Homo sapiens: one gene and its partners. The protein of the gene in region 3 purifies or fractionates together with the protein of the main gene of each other region. This does not show direct contact. Each region holds a gene or a part of one and is shown on either strand. Other genes may lie near its edges.

Region 1 (3,500 bases), on a different chromosome or scaffold from region 3:
TGTCATGGGTCCCATCATCGCCATTACGCTCTGTCTCATCCTCAGAGATGCGAGAGTCATCAGCATGAAGATCCACAACAGCCTCCTGCCCCGCCAGGGGTTTGATGTCGGGGATGAGGCTCTGGGACACAGATACCCCCCACCCCGTTACACTGGGCCCATGTCTACTCCCACCTTAACAGGTCTCATCCTCCCTTCCCTGGCTCCTCCCACCTCACCTTTAGTGATTCAGTGGTGATACTGATGGAAGGTTTCTTCTGTGTGGTGGCTGTGCTGGCTCCCCAGCGTCGTTTCCGACCAGGCTGGCCCCCCTCTGTGTCACTGTTTCCAGCTGGCACCCCCTTGGTAGCTGCTGTCCCCAAGAAATAGACCCAACAGTTAGATGGTCTCAGGACCTCTGCTAGTTCAAACCGTAATACCTACAGGTTACCTCTGGCTGGAGTTTTGGTAAAAGGTTAACTTAAAGAAATCATATTTGGAGGCTGAGTGTGGTGGCTCACACCTGTAATCCCAGCACTTTGGGAGGCCAAGGCGGGTGGATCACGAGGTCAGGAGTTTGAGACTAGCCTGACCAACATGGTGAAACCCCATCTCTACTAAAAATACAAAAATTAGCCAGGCGTTGTGGTGCATGCCTGTAATCCCAGCTACTCAGGGTGCTGAAGCAGAATTGCTTGAACCCGGGAGGCGGAGGCTGCAGTGAGCCAAGATGGTGCCACTGACTGCACTCCAGCCTGGTGACAGAGCAAGACTCCGTCTCAAAAAAAAAAAAAGAAAAGAAATCATATTTGGGAACTGGGGAAACCATGGCTTCAGACTGAACACTGATCTAAAAGCAGTAAGGGAGGGGTAGCTAGTTTGATGAGCCGTTTAAACTTTTAATGGTAGACAGTAATATCAAGTAGTGTGGAAGAAAAACTGAGAAGGACATGTAAATGCAGAAGAAACAAGAACACTATGTGATACTAACATCTAGGCAGAACTAAGATCATGATGGGATCTGGTCTTCCTTTAATTTTCACACTACAGATTGATATTTAAGTTATAAACATCTATTATACTTTTGTAATCTAGAGTTCCTCATTGGGGAAAATGTTAAAATTGTTACTGTTTGAGGTGTGGGGCACTTTCATTTCCTTGGGTGCTCTCTTAGAATAACGCATAAACAAGGTCAGGCACGATGGCTCACGCCTGTAATCCCAACACTTTGGGAGGCCAAGGCAGGCGGATCACAAGGTCAGGAGTTCAAGACCAGCCTGTCCAACATGGGGAAACCCCATCTCTACTAAAAATACAAAAATTAGCTGGGCATGGTGGCGCATGCCTCTAATCCCAGCTACTCAGGAGGCGGAGGAGGATTGCTTGAACTGGGACCCGGAGGCGGAGGTTGCAGTGAGCCAAAATCGCACCACTGCACTCCAGCCTAGGGTACTACAGAGGGAGACTCCGTCTCAAAAAAACAACAACAAAATACCCAGAATAATTCATAAACTGCTAAGCATCACATAGGAGTCCCTGAAACTCATTCCTTGTTGAGTATTCAGGTATCTGAAAGAATAAATGCCTCTAAGGCTAAATGGGACATGGTCTCAGACACCTCACACTGTATCTCATTAAAATGTGACTGGAGCAATATGATGGGGATTGTCTCAAGTTTTGAATTCCAAAATGAAACCCTACATAGGAAAGGATTCAGATTTGCTAGGCACAAGGGGTGGGGCAGGAGGGAGTGACCCAAGAATGCCATTGAGAATGAAATTCTGGTTCTCAATGAATGCTGGTTTTTATGGTATTCCTGACTTTTATCAGGGATTTGGGGCTGGACTTACAGACAACGGAGATCTTCCTCTTGAATGATTTGGGCAGCGAGCTCTGTATGAAGAAGAAAAAGGGGAAAAAAAAGAGAAAGAGAGACACCCCACAGAGAGGGGGGAAGGAGGTTAGATGGGGCAGTCTTAGCTTAGCCTCCAAAGACACAGATAGAGTGAGAGAGAGAGACAGAGAGAGACACAGAGACAGACAGAGACCAAAACAGAAGCGGCAAACGGCAAAAACGAAGCAGAATCAATGCAAGTTAGAGAAAAAAATAAAACTAAACATCAGAGCAGGGAAAAGTCATCTACTCCGTATCACACCTGTGTATTAGCTTAACCAGAAATAAGCTGGAAGAGGAGTTCAGTAGCCTCTCAGCCCCCTAAAGATGTTGGTCATACCCCCTCTTTCACCGTCTGAGTCGAGAGGACACCAAGCCAAACAAACTGTGCCCCAAACTGGGTCATCTAGTCCTCCCAGGTCCTTCCTTGCTAACTCGAGGAAACAAGGAAAACCAACTTTGGATGGCAACTTCAACAAGGTAACCCTCCTTTCTTCAATGGCCAGACTGATGCCCACTGACAATGGCTTTGAGATGCTTGGACAGCAGACTGTCATGTCAAGACTGCCCAGACCCCCACCACACTGTGGAAAAGGGCAGCACCAGACCCACTGGAGATGAGGCTCTTGAGCCAAGTGCTAGCAAAAAGAACTCAAAGGTGTCTTTGATAAAGGAAGGTTTTTATGAAGGGCAGATTGTCCCCAAGGAGATCCTTAGACTTTCCAGCCACCGCAGGGAGCTCCAGCAGAGTCTTACTGTTTCCTCTCCAACCAGGGCTCAAGCCTTAGGGGCTCTGCCAAAGACCAGAAGACATCTTTGGGACAAGTCTCTACCCCAAACACTCAGTGGGTGAATGACGAAAGACTATGGGGGGCGGGGGAGAAAAGTGAGAGAGAAAAAGGGAATAGAGTATTTTCAAGTGTAGGTGCTTATTTCTGGAAAAACTAAGACCACTCTACCACTCTTCTAAAGGGTAGGGCAGAAACCTCGTGATGAAATCCCTTTCCCATCCACCCCCACCCGCAGCCCCGTTTGTGTCGTCTAACCAAGTCTCCTTGGTCTCTGTTAAGGGCCAGCCTGACCCCTAGCTGGGCCGCTCTCGATGGGTAAGTTAGTGAGAAAAACAAAACAAAAAAAAAGGTCTTAATTAAAACAGGAAAAACATGAACCAAATAAATAAATAAAAGAAATCAGAAAAAATAAAGATATAGAAAAAAATAAAATAAAATATTAAAAAAAGAAGAAGAAAATAAAGAAGAAAATAAACTAGGAATATGACAAATGTTCCAGGTACCATCTCACACCTGGGATCTTCAGTTCAGCCAATCGCACCTCACTGTGTACTGTATCTAGTCAACCGCCGGTCCAATCAGAATGAGCCCTCCCTGCTAGGCGCTGTGCAATTGGTGGGGGGTTGGGTTGGCAAAAAAGGTGGGCGCACGGCGTGGTAGTCAGCACGGCACTGCCAGAGTCCTCCCAGGGGCGCAGGGGGGGCGGGAGGGAAACGTGTGGGGGGACGCTGCCCAGTTTCCATGATGTCAAGACAGTTCACTGGCGGTGGCCAGGCTCAGCGAGGGATAGAGGGGGGAAAGGGGCAGAGACATCAGTCCTGGCCCTGAAGGGACAT
Region 2 (3,500 bases), on a different chromosome or scaffold from region 3:
AGCATACACTCCCTGTTGGACTCTGACCCGGGGCAGCTGGAGATTTACTCTCTAAGTTGTGAGGAACAGCGCACACAACCTACCAGTCAAAAAAAAAAAAATTTCCATTGCTAATCATTTCAGGAGCAGCACTGTGCAATATAAACTGAATTTTAATATCCTCTATACTATATACAGGGATGCATTTTAATATGATCCACAAGAGGATGTCATGCTGCCAAGTTTCAAACTTACAGTATGTAAATTGACTGTAAGCATTGACTCAGGGTTATATGTAAAAACCCAATTGAGTCTTGACCATATTTTTATTTCAGGTCAAGAAATGCCAGTGCTTTTGATTAATTTTAAAATAGTAATCTTTATATACTATAGCTCTCTTTCGTGCAAACTGAGGAGATGGGGAGAATCTTCCTTTTCTAATGTGAAAGATATGCAAATGCAGGGCCCTAAAAAAACACAAAGCATCAAAGTCACTAACTTGTCCATTCATTCGTTCTTCAGGGAGGATTTCTTGTTTTATCTTCACCAGTTTAACAGCAATGGGTTTCCCAGTCCGTCGGTCCGATGATACTTCAAATTCAACATCATCTAAAAATAAATAATGTGTTATGTTTGTTGAACTGATTTTTGCGAAACGATATATTGCTTCCAAGCTATACTTAACATAGCATTTGAATTGCCTTAGACCAGTGGTTTTCAAAGTGTGGTCCCTGGACCAGCAGCATTAACATCACCTGGGAGCTTAAAAGAAATACTGGGCCTAACTCTAGTCCTAGCCAAAGACAAACTCTGGGGATCAAGTATAGCAATCTGTGTTTTAACAAGCCTTCCACTAATTCTGATACACACAAATGTTTCAGAACCACCATCTTATGCTAAGATAGCCATGTCTTAATCTTAGTTTTTATGGCATTTACACATACTACAAATGAGATGACTTAACAATCATAACCTTTGGCGAGTTTTTTTTTTAAACTCCTCTGTACCTCAGTTTTCTCTTATGTAAAAGGAGAATAATTCCTAACAGGACTGCCATGAGGATTAACCAAAACAATGTTCCTATAGCATGCATCTTGTTAGCTATTATACTGACTCTTTTCTCAAACGTTTTTTAAAAATGCACAGAGGCCTCATAATTTCAGTCCTTTAGTAAGCCAAACACTTCACATGTAAAAACTTTTTTTTTTTTTTTTTTTTTTTTTTTTTGAGACAGAGTCTCCCTGTCACCCAAGCTGGAGTGCAGCGGCACGATCTCAGCTCACTGCAACCTCTACCTTGCGGGCTCAAGCGATCCTCCCACCTCAGTCTACTTAGTAGCTGGGACTACAGGCACATGTCACGTTCCTCAGCTAATTTTTGCATTTTTTGTAGAGATGGGGTTTTGCCATGTTGCCCAGGCTGCAAGCTGGTCTTGAATTCCTGAGCTCAAGCAATCCACTTGCCCTGGCCTCCCAAAATGCTGGGAATACAGGCATGAGCCACCATGCCAGGCCTGTGAAATAATTTGTATGGTGTCAGCCACAATGAATTTCCATATAATCTAAGAGGTGACTTTTTTTTTTTTTGAGACGGGGTCTCGCTCTGTCGCCCAGGCTGGAGTGCAGTGGTGGCATCTTGGCTTACTGCAAGCTCCGCCTCCCAGGTTCACACCATTCTCCTGCTTCAGCCTCCCGAGTAGCTGGGACTACAGGTGCCTGCCACCACGCCCAGCTAATTTTTTGTATTTTTAGTAGAGACGGGGTTTCACCGTGTTAGCCAGGATGGTCTCTATCTCCTGACCTCGTGATCTGCCCGCCTCGGCCTCCCAAAGTGCTGGGATTACAGGCGTAAGCCACCGCGCCCAGCTTCTAAGAGGTGACACTCTAAGGATTACTTTTTTCAGGTACTACCCAAAATAGTACCTGACAGAATAATCATAAGTAACATTACAAAAGTTCAATATTCGTACTGGCTTAAAATCTTACGGGTAAACAGTCATCATTATGGGGAAAAACAATGAAATCTTCCAAGCATTTATTGTAAATATATGCAAATATAATCTTTCAAGGATTCTGCTGGTTTATACAGATATTCTTCACTAAACAGTACAACTAAAAGTCCAAAATGTTTTAATTTACATAAAACTTTTTGAAAAACACTCATGAACAAATTGATATGCAAGACAAATTTTGTGATTACATTTTTACAAAGGAGAACTGACAGATTACCTCCTACTTTTAAGTCTTGCAGGTTGCCATTATACTGTGAACAGTGGAAGAAAAGTCTAGCTTGACGTTCTGAACACTGAATAAATCCGTAAGAGGTTAACAGTTTTTCAATAACCCCAGTTTCACGCAGTGCTGCTGAAGTACCATTAGGGTACCCATTATGTCCATTGTTGTGGAGAAGGTTTGGATCAAAGCTCATCTGTTTTAAAAAGAAAAAGAATATATACATATCTGTACATTATCTCCATAGCATATTAAGTCTGGTTAATAAGTCACTAAATCTTCCATATAAAAACGCAAAAAAAAGTAAAATGAAGGGAAGATTATAGACTTTATTACTGCAGCATTAATTTAGCTAATAAAACATTTCAGAGGAAACAACTTATTATATTGGGGAATTGCCCCAAATTATGGTAGAATTTCCACTTATCAGACAAAAATAGAATTTCTGGGGTTTAATATTAAGGTATAGCAACTACATTAGCAAATGCTGCCTTTACATGAAGTGAAAATTACTAAAACAACAATTTCAGAACAAAGGTAATTAATATTAAGAGACAGCGACCACAAACTACCAAAGACTCTTAAGAGATTTGGTAACGCTATTTTGAAACTTCAGCCAATACCTTAATACTGTTTAGTAAGTCATGCATTTGGAAGGCATATTTCAAGTTAGTAGAGATTAACACAATAAAATGAACTTTCTATGCAATACTTAAACTAGAAAATTTCAGAGTAATTCATGCTTAGGTCCTTTAATGAAAGACTATCCAAAATAGTGCAGTAGAAAACTTCTGAAACAACAAAACTCCAAGACAGCAAAAGCATTTCCATTTTAAAAATGCTGAATCATTTCACAGGTACATTTAAAGAAATCTTTACCTAAAAGAAACCCTTCACTTTTTACATACTGATGAAATCTGTAACTATCACTTCGTTCCCATTCTTTAGTGAAATAGGAGCTATTTAAAAGCAATATAATGGAATCTGCCTAGGTCATAAAATACTATCACATTGGATGTTCCATTTCCCTTCTTTGAGTAAAACAACAAAAACTATAAGTGAAGCACAAAACAGGACGAAATCCTTAGCAAAGCCTAGGTCTATAATTTACCACAGTAATGACATTTCTAAATCATTACAATTATGTTTTAGACCCTTTCACTGAAAATCTGATTTATAAGTATTTCCATTTAAGTGGAATGTTGGGCATTATTAATAAAAAGGATATATTTTCACTAGGAAAAAAGAGTAACAAATTCTAGAAAGATAAACCAAAGTTTGAGTCAACGA
Region 3 (3,500 bases):
GGGCTCAGGGCCCCTGTGCTTTTCTTTATGGGGAGGGTCCCAGATACGAGGGGAACACAGCAGCCAGAGTGGGGCTTGGGTCCTGACCTCCTGGGCTCCAACCCAGCCCCTCCACTTTGAGACACACGGTCCAGGCAAGTGGACCCCAGGGCAGGGGCAGACCCACAGGGACATGGGGACTCAAGTCAAGGAAACGGACCATGGCCGGCCAGCGTGGCCGCGGCGCCCAGATGCTGACAGAGGCTGGCAGAAGTCTATAGGGAAAGCCTCGCCAGCCTCTGTCAGGTGACGAAGAAAACACGGGGGTTAGTGGGGGTGGGTAGGTGCACCAACCTTCTGGATGTCCGTGATGTCCACTAGCTTGATGACTTTGTTCCTCTTTGAGGACCCAGATTTGGAGCTTTCGAAGCACAAGTAACTGGAAGGGGAACGGACAGAGGCGTCGCCTGGCTCTTGAACCAGAGCACGCTCCCACCAGGTGGGGGTCTCCCGGGGCTGCCTCTCAGCCCCCAGTGGGATGGACAGTGGTGCTCCCTTCCCAGCAGACACAGAACCGGTGAAACACTCACGGCCACTGCTCTATATGAGACACTCACGGCCACTGCTCTGTGTGAAACACTCACAGCCACTGCTCTGAGACACTCACGGCCACTGCTCTGAGTGAGACACGGCCACTGCTCTGAGACACTCACGGCCACTGCTCTGAGTGAGACACTCACGGCCACTGCTCTGCATAAGACATTCACAGCCACTGCTCTGAGTGAGACACTCACGGCCACTGCTCTGCATGAGGCACTCAGGGCAACAAGGACTCAGGGCCTCAGCAATAGCAGGTCCCCACACGGTCCCCTCCTTGGGAGACTCTGCCCCTCGTCTCCATGAACTGCTTGGGCCCCAGAGAAGACAGCATCCCCGCCAGCCTGAGGGATGGCAGCAGTACAGCCCAGGCCACGTCCGGCTTGGAGACAACACCTTTTCCCTGGGAGCCCAGACAGCCGGCAAGAGCAGAGCATGGGAGAGGCCATGGCCACCACTCAGGAAAACCTGCACTGGGCCAGCCACGCCATCCCAGGGCCTAGGCAGCCTCCTGCGCCCCCTCCCCTGCAGCCACACAGGGCCCCACGGCTGCACTCACTTCTCCGTGACGTAGAGCACCCCGTTCCTGATGTAGTCCGTGGGCATCTTCCGGTCCCTGTTGATGAGGCAGCAGCGCCAGCCATTCTCGCACACTAATGGGAGAAGGCCCGCCTGTCACACTTTCCACTGGAAGTACCCAGCCTCTGACCTGACGCTGGGACCCAGGAGCCTGACTCTCAGATCCTGACATCCGCCCACCGCGCTCACGTCACACCCACAGTGAGAGGAAGGCGCGCCGGCAAGAGTGAGGTGGCCCCAGAGGGTGGAAAACAGATGTTTCCTCTTCAACAGGCACTGGCAGGGTTTTTAAAGTAAAAGCACCCAGGCAGAGCAGGGAGCAACAGAAGTCACAGTGTGGCCGGGACACCACCTCCAAGACCGGCAGGGTCAGGGCGCTGGGACACCACCTCCACCAAGACCGGCAGGGCCAGGGCTCAGCAGAGGACGAAGCTCCGTTCTCCGCAGCTGCCTCTGCAGCCGCTCATCACACACCTCGAGCTGCCCGGTTTAGTTTAACAGGCCCTCCCTTTGGGAAAGCTGACCTGTCCCCAGGATCCTGAGTCACCTGTCCCCTGGTGGCTCTTGTTTCTCCAGACACGATGGAACCAGGGGCAGACCCCCTGCCAGCGCCCTGCAGGCCCTGAGGCCTCGCCCTGGACTCTCTCCCCAGTGTGTTGCCTGCACGCCTGCTGTCAGGGGAGTGCTGCAGCGTGGGCGGCTCTCCCCACGGGCACGCCCTCCTCCCCTGTAGCCCGCAGAGTCCTCATGACCCCTGGCTCCTGCACTCCTCCTGGGGCAGTGGGATGTGAATGCCATCCTGAGGGCTCCTCTGGCCTGTCACAGGGCGACCCCGTCCTGCATCCACAGCGCCCCCCTCACGGGCCTTCAGTCTGTGTCGGCGCTCGGCCTGGCCTCAGACTCACGGCACACATACCCGCCAGCGGACGCTCGTTTTCTGTCAGATTGAAGATCTCGTGGAAATTGCCCTTCTTGGTGCTGTGGAAGCGACCGGCGTCCTCCTCTTTACCCAGGCCGGCCGGTGCGCTGGGTACGTAGCTCCGTGACGAGGTCGTCTGCAGCTGCCAACGGCAAACAGCGTCGAGGTCAGGCCCGCTGCCCACGCCTGCAGCACCCAGATGTGCTGGCCGCACACACACCTCCCCAAAAGCTGGGATCCAAATTTGGGAAGACGTTCCCGAGGTCCCTTCCGGCCCAGAGCGGCTCCTTCTTCCAGGCAGGGCCACCTCACCTCAGTGGGGAGAGCCCAGCAACCCTCCTGACTCATCTGAGCCACCCCGAAGGGAGCACCGAGGCCTGCTCATTCCCCGTGGTCCTGGCTGGGATGCTGTGCTGCACATCTGGAGGGCCTGTGACTGTGAATGAAATATGGCCCAGTGCCAGGCTGTGGCTCCAAGGGGGCCCTTCTCAAACTGCCTGGTCTCAGCGCCAGAGCCTCACTGTCAGGGATGGCAGGGGCCGGGCACCCCCATGGAGTGGTCACTCCCAGGCCTGCTGGCTCTCAGTCATCATGGCCAGTCCCCAGGTGTTGCCCTGGGCTTGGGAGGGGCTGGATGAGCCTCAGAAACCGCAGTGGTAACAGGGAAAAAAAAAACCCTCAAGTTTAAGGAGTCTATAAAATTGAAGAAACAGCCTCTAAATGAGCCGGAGGTGAACAGAGCACTGTGGGCCTGGGGATGCCCGGCTTCGTGGCCCCCCATCCCCCCATCCCCGCAGCTGGGGGCCGGGCTCACCCTGCGTGAGACTGCGGCGCTGGAGCGCTCCTTGAGCTGCGGGTCGGTGGGGAGACTCCTCCAGATGATATAGGGCGTGTCGTACTTGGCGCGCAGCCTCGGGCAGCGTTTAAAGATGAAATCAATGAGGAAGAACTTGATACCAGCATAGAGTCCTGAGGGCAGGGGACACAGCCTGCTCCATCTAGAGCTCTGCAGCTATGCCAGTCTACTCAGGGTGATGGTTCCGGCACCTCCCACCTCCCAGATTGGCACCCTCCACCCTGAGCCTGGATGTGAGAGTCCAGCTGCTCGCTCAGTCCTCACCCTGGATACCCCCAGCCTCGCTCCCCTGGGGCCCATTCGTGCTGCACAGTCTCAACCCCAGGCGAGGGCCCCACTGCCAGCGCCCCACCCACTCCCACTAAGACCCCTCAGCTCTGCTAGGACCCCCCCATCCAATGCCCCTCACTTCTCTCTCCAACTCCGCCTGGCTCAGGGCTGTTCTTGACCCACCTGAAACACTTCAGGACTGTGCCTCCTCTGCCCCAATTCCCCACACCTGACACCAAATCTGAGGTCCCTCCATGGCAATCCCTCCCCAAACCCCCTCCCACCTGCCCTTCTTCAACT
Region 4 (3,500 bases), on a different chromosome or scaffold from region 3:
AAAAAAAGGCAACCATTATCTAGCACAAAAATCATGTTAACAAAAACATAAGTGTAGGTAAATATCTTACATGATAAGTCATCAAATTTATTTTTTTATATTGCTAAAAAGGAGTTACTCTATATTTGATCAAAATGTATCCTTTGTGTTTAAAAATAATTTTTACAAACCCATGAAACCATCTTATAACCTAAAACAAGAGCTTAACCACATGATTGTTCCCCACCCTACTCTATTATTAAAATACCCAATTAAAAATCTGTAATATGTCCCTTTTGGTAATCCATCCCCCATGAAAAGTACCACAAATAGCCACAAATTAAAAGAGATGAGAAAAAAATCCTTACCAATAAGACCGCCTGGAGCAGCATATTGCAGATCATTATGCTCCGCAAAAAGTGATACAATTTTGGAAAAGATTGGTTTACACATGAGTTTTCCTTCACTATCTTTGGAAACAATACCAGGTCTTACTTCTATCTCCTGGCCCACCTGTAAACATATAATTAGTAATTAGAATTACTGTGTTACGCAAAATTATCATTTACCTATCAAAAGTTCCAACAGGGACTGGGTGCGGTGGCTCACATGTGTAATCCTAGCATTTTGGGAGGCCGAGGCGGGTGGATCACCTGAGGTCAGGAGTTCGAGACCAGCCCAGCCAACATAGTGAAACCCCGTCTCTACTAAAAACACAAAAATTAGCCAGGTGTGGTGGCACGCACCTGTAATCCCTGCTACTCAGGAGGCTGCGGCAGAATTGCTAGAACCTGGGAGGCAGAGGTTGCAGTGAACCGAGATCGCACCACTGCACTCCAGCCTGGGTGACAAAGAGAGACTCTGTCTCAAAAATAAAATAAAATAAAATAATAATAAAGGTCCAACCGGAAGACCATAAAACTGAAAAGGCAATCATTCCTGTATTTCAAAGATCATTATTCTTAAAAAAAAAAAAAAAAAAAGATGTGAACGAGACTGTCAAAACCAGAACCATCCAACTGTTGTTAACTACCCACCACACAAGTCTATTACCACATCAAATGTGCTCCATACTTACAAGTCTATAAATTTTCAAGTCAGACACATTCAAAAGACATAACAGAAAACAAAGAAATATAGCTGGGCGTGGTGGCTTATGCCTGTAATCCCAGCACTTTGGGAGGCTGAGGCAGGCAGATCACCTGAGGTCAGGAGTTAAGAGACCAGCCTGGCCAATATGGCAAAACCCCATCTCTACCAAAAAAATTAGCTGGGCGAGGTTGCGAGTGCCTGTAGCCCCAGCAAGTCGGGAGGCTGTGGCAGGAGAATCATCACCTGAACCCAGGAGGTGGAGGTTGCAGTGAGTCAAGATCATGCCACTGTGCTCAAAAAACAAAACAAAAAAAAAACTATTATCAGAGCATGTAAATTAGTATAGCTACCATGGAGAACAGTATGGAGGTTCCTTGAAAACCTGAAAATACAGCTACCATATGATCCATCAGTTTCACTAGTGGGTATACATTCACCAGAAAGGGAAGCAATATTATCAAAGAGGTATCTGCACTCCCATGTTTATTGTAGCACAGTTCACAATAGCCAAACATGGAATCAACCTAAGTGCCCATGAACAGATGAATGGATAAAGAAAATGCAGTATATAGGCCGGGCAAAGTGGCTCACGCCTATAATCCCAACACTTTGGGAGGCCGAGGCGGGTGGATCACTTGAGGTAAGGAGTTCAAGACCAGCCTGGCCAACATGGTGAAACCCTGTCTTTACTACAAATACAAAAATTAGCTGGGCATGGTGGGGGGTGCTTGTAATCCCAGCTACTTGGGAGGCTGGGGCAGGGAGAATCGCTTGAACCCAGGAGGTGAAGGTTGCAGTGAGCTGAGATCGCTCCAGCTTGGGCGAAACAGCAAGACTCCGCCTCAAGAAAAAAAAAAAAAAGAAAAGAAAAGCAATGGCAGCATATATATATATGCAATGAAGTATTATGCAGCCATAAAAAAAAATTCTGCCATTTGCAGCAGCACATCTAGAATTGGAGGCCATTTTGTTAAGTAAAATAAGCCAGGCACAAAAAGACAAATATCACACATTCTCACTCATCTGTATATGTGGAAGCTAAAAAGGTGGATCTCATGAAGGTAGATTGTGGATTCAGAGGTCTAGAAGGGTGGGAGGAGTGAAGTTTGAAGAGAGAAAAAAAGAATATTAAAAAAGAGAACTCTACATCAAATACCAGAAACCATGGAAAAAATTTTATTTTTCAATTTGGATTGTCCATACTTTTTTTCCTGATTAAGACAAGGATAAAACAAACAAACAAACAACAAAAAAAAAAAACCCAAAATCACAACAACCAAAACCCATTTTACCTTTAATACTCCTTTTAGGATACTACCACCAGCTACACCTCCCTTAAGGTCATCAACTTCACAGCCAGGTTTGTTGACATCAAAAGATCTAATAACTAAAATAAAACAAATTAAAGTCAGTTCTGTTAATCTTAACTTTAGAAGAAATATTATTTTCCATGTTAATGTTTCTAAAATAGTGGCCATTTGAGATTTATACCAAAGGGGTGCCTTTTTAACAAAATCTATTATTATTCCAATGATTAAGCAGTCTTACTTATGATGGAAAAAATGAAAGTAACTTAAGTTTATTAATAAGTGGCATATAGGGTATACCAGTATTATAGAGCATCACGCAGCTATTAACAATGTTAGAGCTATATGTAATGATCTGGAAGGATGACCCTCACATACTGTTAAGAAAAGTTATAAAAATTACACGCATAATATAATCCCACTTCCATAAAGAAAAATAAAATAATCAATGTCTGTATATGGATTTTTTTTTCCCTCTATCATAGAGGCTGGAGTGCAGTGGCACAATCATAGCTCACTGCAGCCTCAAATTCCTGGGCTCAATCTTCCTGCCTCAGCCTACCGAGTAGCTCGGACTACAGGTACACACCACTGCACCCAGCTGTAATATTTTATTTTTTGTAGAAATGGGGTCTTCCCTTAATGCCCAGGATGGTCCTGAACTCCTAGCCTCAAGCAATCCTCTCACCTCAGCGTCAGCCTCCCAAAGTGCTGGGATTACAGGTGAAAGCCACCATGCCCAGCCTGTGTATATGTTTATACACGATGATATGAACAAAGAGAAAAGTGTGGGAATAATGGACACCAAATGTTAACTTTGCTGACTTTAGGGCTAAGGAACTAGAACTTGAAGACAGAGAGATTATGGACATTTTCTTTATAGACCTCTGTAACTCCTGTAAGAACAATTCAGCTTTATAACTATAAAACACTAGGACTACATGACCTGCACTTCGGAGACTATTTCCTACTAAACACCAGAAGCTCGGATGAAAGCCAGAGGAGCTCAAATGTCTGTTTCGAGAAGGCTACTACATCCCCGTGTAGGAACCACAAGCCTAGGTGATCAAATTATACCAGTATCAGTTCTTCGTTAATTGAACAACAAAATCATCTGTAAAT
Region 5 (3,500 bases), on a different chromosome or scaffold from region 3:
GGTTAGGGGAACACAACTACACTCTTTCCCTGCTTTGTCACTTCATTTGGTGTCACAGAAAGTGTGTAAGCTCTGCCCAGCTCAAGATATACGGATTTCTCCATCAAAATATAATTGGCAAAAAAGTATATACACACACATATACACATATATGCATGCTATACCTAAATATTTATATATAAAATATGCAATAAAACTAATCTCTTACACATTTTTTGTTTTTTAAGTATTCAAACAATCTGTATGCACAAAGCACTTCTGTGTGCTGTTGGCTACAGAAGGCTAGCAGCATATTCTTATTACAATTTCATGAATCAGGAAACTAAACCTCAGAGATGGAGCACCTCACTCCCCTAGAGCACAGATGTAAATCGGCCTCCATAACCAACCAGCTACATGAACTAAATGGACACCTCTGACATTAAATTGCACAGCCAGAGTCTTACCATGAAAATGAAAGACAGCACAGCCTGGGACAGAGCAGGGGCCTGGCAAGCGGGTGGTGACCAGCGAGTGACTGCAGGCTAGAACCAGTCCCTCAATTTCCAGCCCAAACCCTTCCTAGGACACCACACCCACCTCCCACACAGCCAAGCCATTCCCAACCCTCCTCCCTGTCCCCACCCGGCTCACCAGGCTGGGCTGGCTTCCCCATGTTCCTGTTCTGAATGATGTTCAGAGCCAGGGAAGGAGAGAAGGTACTGAACTGGTAGGAGAGCAAGGCTAGGAACCGCCGTCGGAAATCTGTGGGGTGCCATCACGCAGAGTTAGAGGTCTGGAGGCATCCCCGGCAGCCCCCAATCACCTCATTGTCTCCCCCAAACCCCTACTCCTCAGTCACCTTTCCAGAAGGCTGCAAGCCAGCCTCCCTGGTCAGCCTCATCCTCATCAGTGAGCGTCTTCAGCATGATGCACGAGTGCTCTCCGGTCAGGTCATTCTGGGCAACACAGAGGTTTAACTGGCACCAAGAACCCCCTTTTTTTGAATAACCCATCATTGATGAAGGGTAAACACTCAGAGAAGAAAGGCTTAGTGCTTCCGCAGGCCTCTCCTTCTTTCCAGGCTGGGGGTAGGCGCCCTTCTCAAACAGCCCTCGCCTTCACCTTCCTCATATCACCTCAGTTCACACACAACAGCTGCAAAGATCACTGTCCTGCAATCTCCTCAAAAGTGTCACAGACACAGAGAAGAGCTGCTGGCTCTTCTGGGCCTGCCTCTTGCTCGGGACGTGCGGGAGGGAAATATGTGCTCCTCTCAGGTAGATGCTGAACTCAGTCATTAGGGCTTAAGCGCCACACAATCCAGTCAACATGGGTTTGATGCCTCACAGCAGGAACTCCAGGGCCAAAACCTACACCTCAGTGCTGGCAGCCAGTCTGCAAGTGCAGGCTTCTTTAGGTGTTAAAATTGTGACTATTTTTACATTTTTTACTCCATAACAACAAAGCCCCACACCATAAAAACACCACCAAGTCACAAATGAACAGTGCACAGTGCAAGACCACACGGACACACCGCAGACCACACCACAGCTCACTAGCTTGCGTTCTCCTTGCAGCTGACAGCCAAACTTACATCCTCAGCCTCCACCAAATGTACTGACAGAGACTCAACCCATCTCTGCAGCTCCCTGCCTGCACGGAAGCAGCCCAACACCCAGCAGTCCTCACCAGTCCCACTTTAAACCCTCGGACGGACACTGGACACTAGCCTCTGATACTGACTTTGCCCTCTCCAAAATCAAACCTCCAACACTTCCCTCTCAGCCGATGGACTCCCCTCATCTGGGAAGACAGAAGCACTCAGAAGACAATGTCTTCATCCTCCCAACCCCAGATCAGCCAGCCAACTGATGCCTTCCATTCCCACGCTCTCTGCCTTCCCTGTTCCGAAGGATGAAGTAGGTGGTCACCTCTCTTCCTGAATCTCGAGTCCCACCCACCACCTCCTCAAGGCCTGCACTCTGGCAGTCAGCCCCCCTCACCCATACCACTAATTGCAGGATCGAACCCAGCAGCAAAAAACATTCTCTAGAATCTCCCATCGGACAATCCTTCTTTAGCGCCCATCTCCCTCCAGCGACCTTGTTTCTCTGCTCCCTTTCGCTTCCTGAAAGAGTCGCCTGTTCCCCTTCTAGTTCTTCACCTCCTCTTCCCTCTGGCCAGGCCAAAGCCTCCACTCCACTGCAGCTGCTTCAATGCAGCTCACCGCTGCTGACAAATCCAATGGCCAGCTGTCCTCATCCTCCTCATCCTCTCAACAGGGCTGACTCCCATTCCCACTTTTTCACCTTGACGTGTGACACCACACCCGACTTTCTCTTGCGCATCAGGGCTGTTCCTTCTCAGTCTTGTATGTGCTGTGTCCTCCTCTTCATTCCTCTAAACGTTAGGGTCCAAGGAGTCACTCTCACATCCTTTCATTGGCTCCAGATATTTTTCATTCACTCAACAAAAGTATTTACTGAACACAAACTACACAGCAATTGCTACTCTAAGTGCGAGGAATACAGCAATGAACACAACAGACAAGAGCTCCGTGCCCTCCTGCAGTGCATTCTATTATGAATATGCTGATGGCTCCCAAAGCTCCATCTCTAGCCCCAAACTTCCCTACCTCCAAATTCCTGTAGTCAAATGAATGCCTAGTCCACATTTCCACTTGGATGTCCAATAGGCATCTCATATTAACATCAAAAAAGAACTCCCACTCTTCCCTCCAAATCTGCTCCTCCTGCAGTGAGTCCCATCTCCGACAGCACCTCCAACACCCAGTTTCTCAAGCCAAAACTCTAGGAATTACCCTTGATCCTCCTGTCCACTCTCCTTTCCCAGAATCTGATGAACAAGTCCACGTGTACCTCTGCCATTTTATGACTAAGCTCAACGCATGCACCGTGTAGTCGGAGAAGAAATGTGTGATGATGTGGCCTGTCACTGAGGATGGCTGTTTCCATGTCCATCAGAATAAACCTCTTCAGAGGCACAGCCACCTGCTCAGAGCGATGCAGCAGGGAGGCACTAGGGCTCTTTGCAAGGACAGGCCTGTCACCTACCATAACGGTAAACCTAAACTTCTCCTCTGCTGGATGCCTCACTCACCGGGGTCTGTCTCAGATAAACAGGAACAAATCCAGCTCGTTTCCAGAACCTGCAAAGATACAAAGACAGTAGGTCACTGTGTGTGGCCTCTGGGGAGTGGCTGATAGACACACAAGGGCAAGAGCCAGGAAGAGCACGCCACAAATAGCAGGCTAGCACCGATACCAGCTACCAACAGAGACACACAGCCCACAGAACTCTTCTTTCTCAATGCCAAGGAGTGATGCCGTGGAAGGAGGGCAGGCACTTACTTGAGGAGCCTGGGGGTCAAGCCATAGGAAACACCCAGGTAATCCAGGCGTTCGGCAGGCCTCTCATTCAATTTGAGGAGTAAAGGAGGCAGGTCCTTCCGGGGAGTGATGACCTCTTCCAACAAGCTGACAGCCTGGGAAGATGCC
Region 6 (3,500 bases), on a different chromosome or scaffold from region 3:
TTAGACTTGTGGAATAATGTAAAAAATGGCCATTAGTCACATGATTATAAACAAGGCATAGAAATGAAATAACTAAGAGTGGCGCTAAAATTAAGAAGGTAAGTAATTTTCCTTCATGAAAAGCTATTTTCCCAAGCAAATGTAAAGTAACTTTACTAATGAAGAGGATGCATTCTAACATCATATGTGGTTAAAAACAACATTACCAGAACTATAAAAGAAACAGGACAGATGCAAGGACATTGAGTCCATAAGTCAATATGACTTAAGATATGAGCATTCAAGTCAGAAGCATCTGGATTTGAATCCCAGCTCTACCACTTACTAATCTTGTGACCTTAAGCAAGTTATTTAACCTCTCTAGGCCTCAGTTTCCTAATCTGTAAAATGAGGCAACAGTACTCACCTTCTAAGGGTGGGTGAGAATATAAACAGGAAAAATATGTGAAGCATTATTATTCTTTGCTTCTTCTCCTTGATGAGGCCCTTGCTTCTTCAGGAGAAAAGGGCTATAACTCTCCAGTTATATTAACCATGTCAGAGATTTTATGTATGTATTTTTTTATTTTTTCCATGATCCAGCCTGATGCTTCTCCCTAAGAGAGAGCCAACTGTCTAGGTTGCGTACTGATGGCCTTTCCCTAATCAGCGGAGCCAGTGAACATCCTCAGCCGCATGTGTAGACCAGGACTACTCTCAATCCTGCTCTGCTGGACTCTGGGGCAGGGACAGGGCAGAGTCTGATAATAGCAAAGCAGTCTCTTAACAAAGAATTGTACATTTTAATGTTAGAGATAAATGATATTCTTTAGGGAAGGGGACAGGAGTAGTCTTCCAAGTAGAAAACACAAAAAGTACTTTTAAGAAAAATTTCTTTTTACGAACCATTATGAACAGCCCACATGATTCGGAAAGCTGGGCCACCAATCTCATCAAAGGGTTTCCGACGCGTTATCACTTCCCAAAGAATAATACCCCAGCTGAAGACGTCACATTTTTCACTGTAATTACTACCTAGAAAAAAAAAAGGTAGTATATAACCTAAAGACTATTTTTCCACATGACTTACAGAAACAATGGCTTAAATTTTGAGAATGGGTATCAGGGATAAAAATGAGGCTGTCACATGTAGAACTAAGAAACTACTCTTTCTGAAGTACTTTGTCTTTTCAACAAGTACATTTTTAAATGAATTAAGTATCAACAATACACTAAAAAACTACTTCAGAAACTCAGTTATTTTCTATCTTTTTTCATCAAGAGGCAGTTTTTTCATCAAGAGGCACAGGACTTGACTTTTATGTATTTAGACTGATACTTTCTCTGGGGCAGAGTATGAAACATCTGTACATTCCTTTATGTTGTTTATTATTATTTTATTCTGAGACAGGATCTCACACTCTCATCCAGGCTGGAGCTCAGTGTAGCCTCAAACTCTTGGGCTCAAGTGATCCTCCTGAGTAGCTGGGGCTACAGGCATGCGCTGGCACAACTGGTTAATTTTTTAAATTTTTTGTAGAGATGGGGTCTTGCCATGTTGCCCAGGCTGGTCTCAAACTCCTGGGCTCAACTGATCCTCCTGCTCTGGCCTCCCGAGGCGCTGGGATCACAGGCATGAGCCATTGTGCCTGGCCTCCTTTCTGTTACATTTTAATCTTAAATTTTCTTCCCACTCTGACAGACAGCACTACTCTGCTATCAAAGCAGAAGAACTTTCTAATTTAGTGTTACAGTTTTTTCCTCAATATATGGTGAAGGGAAATTCTTAATTTATAAACTTAAACATTACGTTGTAAGTAACGAAAATTATGGATAACCTGAGTTACACAGCAAAATTTACAAACTAAGTAGGTGGTTGAATCAGCCAGCACAATAAGCACCCGTCATAATCTCCCAAAAACAAACAAACACTCAACTCACTGTAAGAATGAACAATTATTATAGCTATAGCTTTACATGCTAAGCAGTACACTGTAATATAGCACTACAACCATGCTACAGTCTAATTTGGGCTACAGGTTGACTGACATCTTTCAGAAATGAAGAAACTTACACAGCCTAACAGTCTGCATTTTGTTGCTCTAGACAATTAAGGGTTGTCTAGAGCAATAAAATTAATCTTTTGTATAAACAAATCTTTTTGCTCTCCACATACAGTAACATTGGGTCATTTTAACTCACATAAAGGTATATTAAATAAGTAAATAATTTTAAAACAATGTCAAATGTATACATTCTGTATATGAAACAGGAGGCATTATTTAATCTTGTGTAATATAACACCTGATTATTCATTTATTACTAAATTGAATTTTAGGGCAAAAGAGCTCCACTCAGGTGACTAGTTGCATTGCAATTTCTCTTCCTCTGGGGTGGCTAAAAACAAACAGAAAACCCTTTAAAGTCATCAAAACTGAAAGAAATAAGCTATAACCAGAGTCTGATTAACTGAATGTATCTGAATTTTATGGGCATTTACACTTCCTAACATACAAATCACATACCTTCAGTTCAACTTCTTTCATTTAAAAGATAATTTGATGTTTTTATACAGAAACCTAGCATATAATTTACAGACAACTCTTTTAAAACTTCAGTGACATATGGAGGTATAAAAGAAGGTAAACATATAAGCTTGACATTTATTTGTAATTCTTAGTATCTTATTTCTGTCCAATTACTTGCATTCTTTTTTTTTTTTGAGATGGAGTCTTGCTCTGTCACCCAGGCTGGAGTGCAGTGGCACGATCTCGGCTCACTGCATGCTCCGCCTCCCGGGTTCACACCATTCTCCTGCCTCAGCCTCCCGAGTAGCTGGGACTACGGGCGCCCGCCACCACGCCCGGCGAATTTTTTGTAGTTTTAGTAGAGATGGGGTTTCACCGTGTTATACAGGATGGTCTCGATCTCCTGACCTCATGATCCGCCCACCTCAGCCTCCCAAAGTGCTGAGATTACAGGCCTGAGCCACCGCGCCCAGCTATTTGCATTCTTTTTAAGGCATCCTCATTTAAACTTTAGGGCTCTCAATTTTTAATTGCTAGGAAACCAATACAAAAGCACAGTTAATTCTCATTATTCCTGGTATTTATGTTCTATAAAGTTTCTGAGAACACTGAATTAGTGAACACTGAATCACTGCTCCTAAGGAAAATACAGGGGTAGGTTCCTGTGTGCCTCTGGTCACCATGTTTTTGTCAACTGATCAATATATAGCCTTGTTTCATGCGTATTTCTGCTTAAAGACACCTTATTCATATATACTGTTGATTTATTACCATTGAACTCATAGTCAACATTTCTGTAACTCATGCCTGAATGAAGATAATTTAACATATGTATATTGTCTGTTAAGATACATCATAGCCTTCTTGTACTTAGGCAGTACTATGCTTGAGGGCCATTTTAAGTAGCAAAATTACCAACAAAAATCACAAAAATGAAAAAGGGCTCTGAACAGCACAAAAAAGGACACCTGCTTACAGCATGAGAGCTGAAAC
Region 7 (3,500 bases), on a different chromosome or scaffold from region 3:
GGGCAGGTCTGAAACGGTGGCTTACTCGTTAATAAACTGGCATTTCCTCCACAGGGCAGGTATGAAACGGTGACTTACTCGTTATTTAATAAACTGGCATTTCCTCCACAGGGCAGGCTTGAAACGGTGACTTACTCATTATTTAATAAACTGGCACTTCCTCCACAGGGCAGGTTTGAAACGGTGGCTTACTCGTTAATAAACTGGCATTTCCTCCACAGGACAGGCTTAAAACGGTGACTTACTCGTTACTAAACTGGCATTTCCTCCACAGGGCAGGTTTGAAACGGTGACTTACTCGTTAATAAACTGGCATTTCCTCCACAGGGCAGGTTTGAAATGGTGGCTTACTCGTTATTTAATAAACTGGCATTTCCTCCACAGGGCAGGCTTGAAACGGTGGCTTACTCGTTATTTAATAAACTGGCATTTCCTCCACAGGGCAGGCTTGAAATGGTGGCTTACTCCTTATTTAATAAACGGGCATTTCCTCCACAGGGCAGGCTTGAAACGGTGGCTTACTCGTTATTTAATAAACGGGCATTTCCTCCACAGGGCAGGCTTGAAACGGTGGCTTACTCCTTATTTAATAAACTGGCATTTCCTTCACAGGGCAGGTTTGAAACGGTGGCTTATTCGTTAATAAACTGGCATTTCCTCCACAGGACAGGTTTGAAACAGTGACTTACTCGTTAATAAACTGGCATTTCCTCCACAGGGCAGGTTTGAAACAGTGGCTTACTCGTTATTTAATAAACTGGCATTTCCACCACAGGGCAGGTCTGAAACGGTGGCTTACTCGTTATTTAATAAACTGGCATTTCCTCCACAGGGCAGGCTTGAAACGGTGGCTTACTCGTTATTTAATAAACTGGCATTTCCTCCACAGGGCAGGTTTGAAACGGTGGCTTACTCGTTATTTAATAAACTGGCATTTCCTCCACAGGGCAGGTTTGAAACGGTGGCTTACTCGTTATTTAATAAACTGGCATTTCCTCCACAGGGCAGGCTTGAAATGATGGCTTACTCGTTATTTAATAAACTGGCATTTATTTCCTGGTCTTGCCACTCTAGCTGCACTTCTAACCTTGGCCTTCTAACAGCAAAGCACATTGGCTTGGAGATGCCACTGCTGGCATCAGTGGATGCCGACCCAAAGCAAGGAAAAGGTCACAGTGATCCAGAAGATGGCGAGAACCCAGGGATCAAAGTTACCAGGGGGGAAAAAGGCATTTTTTGGATTTACTTTTGGGGCAACGAAAGAAAATGCAGAGAAAATGCAGGGGTGGGGCTGAGTCCCACCAGGTGGCAGGAAAAGGCAGGTGCAGGTGGGCGTGGTGAGAAGGCCCACCTTGTAGTCTTCCCTGGCATGCGCGCCCCGTGACTCCTTCCGTGCCTCTGCTCCGTAGATGGTCTGCAGCGCACACAGCATCAGGTTCTGCAGCTCCAGGGTCTCCACCAGGTCCGTGTTCCAGACCATTCCTGGGGACACAAAAAGTTCCATCAGGGGCAGGCGGGACCCAGTCACATGGGCCCTCCGAGCTGTCAGCCTGGGCCTGCTAGTCCATGGAGTCACTGGTTGTGGCTTTATAGCTGTGGGCCAGGACCCATCCAGACAGCAAGCACGGAACTAAGTCAGCACTGACGGGACAGACACCAGCCCACCCTGCAGAAGGAAGGGCCCAACAGTGTGCACAGAGCCCACTGTCTGCTCACCCCGGTCGAACGTCTTCAGGTGCTTTAGGTCTCCATAGAGCTTGCTGATTTTCCCACAACCTTCTTGCAACACGCTTCCCACACGGAACACGGCAGCATGATTTTGCATTGACTGTGGCACAAAATATTATTTGTAAACTTTTAATCCATAGAAGCAGCCATACCAAGAACTGCTTAACTTTTAGACCTGTTGTTTTGCATTTCACTTAAAAGTTACATAAATTAAACAGAAAAATTAGGAAATTCAGACTATGAGTTTATTACTCCAAACTTAAAAATGAAGTTTTGACTAAAGCTTCTGAATAAATAAATGTTTCTATTACATACACATCTTAGACCCACACACATCCTTTCCAGCAGGATACAGCCAGGGTCCAGGACTCCAAGCAGACTGCCTGTGAGGCACCATGTTCCATACAGCTCCACGGCCAACCAGGCAGCGCTGCCTCTCCACACCCCTGGCGGGACTCCTGACGCGGGGTCTGGTGGTGAACGTGACACAAGCCAGCAGCCCTGTGGTGATACACACTAGGAGGAGCTGAGCAGAGCCCTGGTGATGGTGGTGTTGGAGCTGCACGTCTTCAAGGAGAGGGAGGGGCGTGGGTGGCTGGGGCCCTTGGCCCATCTGGCTACTGTCTTCTGCCTATCTTGTAGAAGCTCCTTGTACACTGAGTTCCTTCATAGTTTTACTGTGATGAGAGACGTGCTATGCAGTGGACCTGAAGTTTACTGTAGGTATGCTGGGAACTAGGCGTCAGCTTTTGCTTCCTGTGGGACAGGCACCACCTCAGTGATCCCTCCTCCTCCTTGCTTCTCCCTCTAACTGTGCTTTGCTCCACTGACCCTAATTTTCTCTTCCTCTACCAATGCACCTTCATGGTTTAATTTGGACATTTCATCTGATTTTCCTTAGACTCATACATAATCGTAACACTGTAATGCACATCAACCTAATGGTTTTTCAGGAAGAACAAATGAAAAACATTGCATCTCAGAATCTAGTATTACATTCTTTCATGTCCATTAGCAGCCACATGTTTTCATATCCTTTTTTTCGTATTTCTGGTTACATTATTTCAGGGCATTTTCAATTTTTTTTGAAATGTGAATGAGATATTTACTGATGTCTGAGCAGACTACTGCTGGCACATTGTAAAGCTACTGATTTTTAGATACAAATCTCTTATCCAGACACCTTACTACATTCTTGTTTTGTTTCTGTTAGTTTTTCAGTTTATTCCCTGGGAATTGTTTGGAAATTCTATCTGTAAATAATGACAATTGTATCTATTCCTTTTCAATATTTACTGCTGAGACCAGCTCGGTTGTGGAGACCCTAACCCAGCGGTGCTGGAGGAATTAAAGACACACACACAGAAATACAGCATGTGAAGTGGGAAATCAGGGGTCTTACAGCCTTCAGAGCTGAGAGCCTTGAACAGAGATTTACCCACATATTTATTGACAGCAAGCCAGTGATAAGATTTACTAAAAGTATTCCTTACGGGAAACAAAAGGATGGGCTCTGGCTAGTTATCTGCAGCAGGAAAATGTCCTTAAGGCACAGATCGCTCATGCTATTGTTTGTGGTTTAAGAATGCCTTAAACGGTTTTCCACCCTGGGTGGGCCAGGTGTCCCTTGCCCTCATTCCAGTAAACCGACAACCTTCCAGCGTGGGCATCATGGCCATCAAGAGCATGTCAGAGTGCTGCAGAGATTTTGTTTATGGCCAGTTTTGGGGACAGTTTATGGCCACATTGGGGGGCCTGTTCCCAACGTGTCC

What was found.
Region 1: the proteins of GRAMD4 (region 3) and ACIN1 purify together in Homo sapiens (affinity purification with mass spectrometry, with the first as the bait; one study listed by BioGRID). This does not show direct contact.
Region 2: the proteins of GRAMD4 (region 3) and CSDE1 purify together in Homo sapiens (affinity purification with mass spectrometry, with the first as the bait; one study listed by BioGRID). This does not show direct contact.
Region 4: the proteins of GRAMD4 (region 3) and EIF2S3 purify together in Homo sapiens (affinity purification with mass spectrometry, with the first as the bait; one study listed by BioGRID). This does not show direct contact.
Region 5: the proteins of GRAMD4 (region 3) and NAT10 purify together in Homo sapiens (affinity purification with mass spectrometry, with the first as the bait; one study listed by BioGRID). This does not show direct contact.
Region 6: the proteins of GRAMD4 (region 3) and MAP3K7 purify together in Homo sapiens (affinity purification with western blotting; one study listed by BioGRID). This does not show direct contact.
Region 7: the proteins of GRAMD4 (region 3) and SDHA purify together in Homo sapiens (affinity purification with mass spectrometry, with the first as the bait; one study listed by BioGRID). This does not show direct contact.

What each region holds. Positions count from the first base shown.
Region 1 is NC_000014.9:23,064,137-23,067,636, forward strand, and holds part of ACIN1 (apoptotic chromatin condensation inducer in the nucleus), read right to left. Parts: exon of another isoform or gene 3,224-3,500; intron 1,873-3,223; coding exon 1,830-1,872; intron 353-1,829; coding exon 219-352; intron 122-218; coding exon 1-121.
Region 2 is NC_000001.11:114,737,485-114,740,984, forward strand, and holds part of CSDE1 (cold shock domain-containing protein E1), read right to left. Parts: intron 2,407-3,500; coding exon 2,208-2,406; intron 589-2,207; coding exon 479-588; intron 80-478; coding exon 1-79. UniProt on the Homo sapiens protein: RNA-binding protein involved in translationally coupled mRNA turnover.
Region 3 is NC_000022.11:46,672,386-46,675,885, reverse strand, and holds part of GRAMD4 (GRAM domain-containing protein 4), read right to left. Parts: intron 3,044-3,500; coding exon 2,889-3,043; intron 2,511-2,888; coding exon of another isoform or gene 2,388-2,510; exon of another isoform or gene 2,240-2,387; intron 2,217-2,239; coding exon 2,072-2,216; intron 1,230-2,071; coding exon 1,136-1,229; intron 419-1,135; coding exon 334-418; intron 1-333. UniProt on the Homo sapiens protein: Plays a role as a mediator of E2F1-induced apoptosis in the absence of p53/TP53. Plays a role as a mediator of E2F1-induced apoptosis in the absence of p53/TP53. Inhibits TLR9 response to nucelic acids and regulates TLR9-mediated innate immune response.
Region 4 is NC_000023.11:24,064,956-24,068,455, reverse strand, and holds part of EIF2S3 (eukaryotic translation initiation factor 2 subunit 3), read right to left. Parts: intron 2,459-3,500; coding exon 2,364-2,458; intron 493-2,363; coding exon 348-492; intron 1-347. UniProt on the Homo sapiens protein: Member of the eIF2 complex that functions in the early steps of protein synthesis by forming a ternary complex with GTP and initiator tRNA.
Region 5 is NC_000011.10:34,136,629-34,140,128, reverse strand, and holds part of NAT10 (RNA cytidine acetyltransferase), read right to left. Parts: intron 3,488-3,500; coding exon 3,354-3,487; intron 3,152-3,353; coding exon 3,103-3,151; intron 939-3,102; coding exon 842-938; intron 745-841; coding exon 634-744; intron 1-633. UniProt on the Homo sapiens protein: RNA cytidine acetyltransferase that catalyzes the formation of N(4)-acetylcytidine (ac4C) modification on mRNAs, 18S rRNA and tRNAs.
Region 6 is NC_000006.12:90,552,573-90,556,072, forward strand, and holds part of MAP3K7 (mitogen-activated protein kinase kinase kinase 7), read right to left. Parts: intron 1,015-3,500; coding exon 886-1,014; intron 1-885. UniProt on the Homo sapiens protein: Serine/threonine kinase which acts as an essential component of the MAP kinase signal transduction pathway. Plays an important role in the cascades of cellular responses evoked by changes in the environment.
Region 7 is NC_000005.10:249,320-252,819, reverse strand, and holds part of SDHA (succinate dehydrogenase [ubiquinone] flavoprotein subunit, mitochondrial), read right to left. Parts: intron 1,829-3,500; coding exon 1,717-1,828; intron 1,483-1,716; coding exon 1,352-1,482; intron 1-1,351. UniProt on the Homo sapiens protein: Flavoprotein (FP) subunit of succinate dehydrogenase (SDH) that is involved in complex II of the mitochondrial electron transport chain and is responsible for transferring electrons from succinate to ubiquinone (coenzyme Q).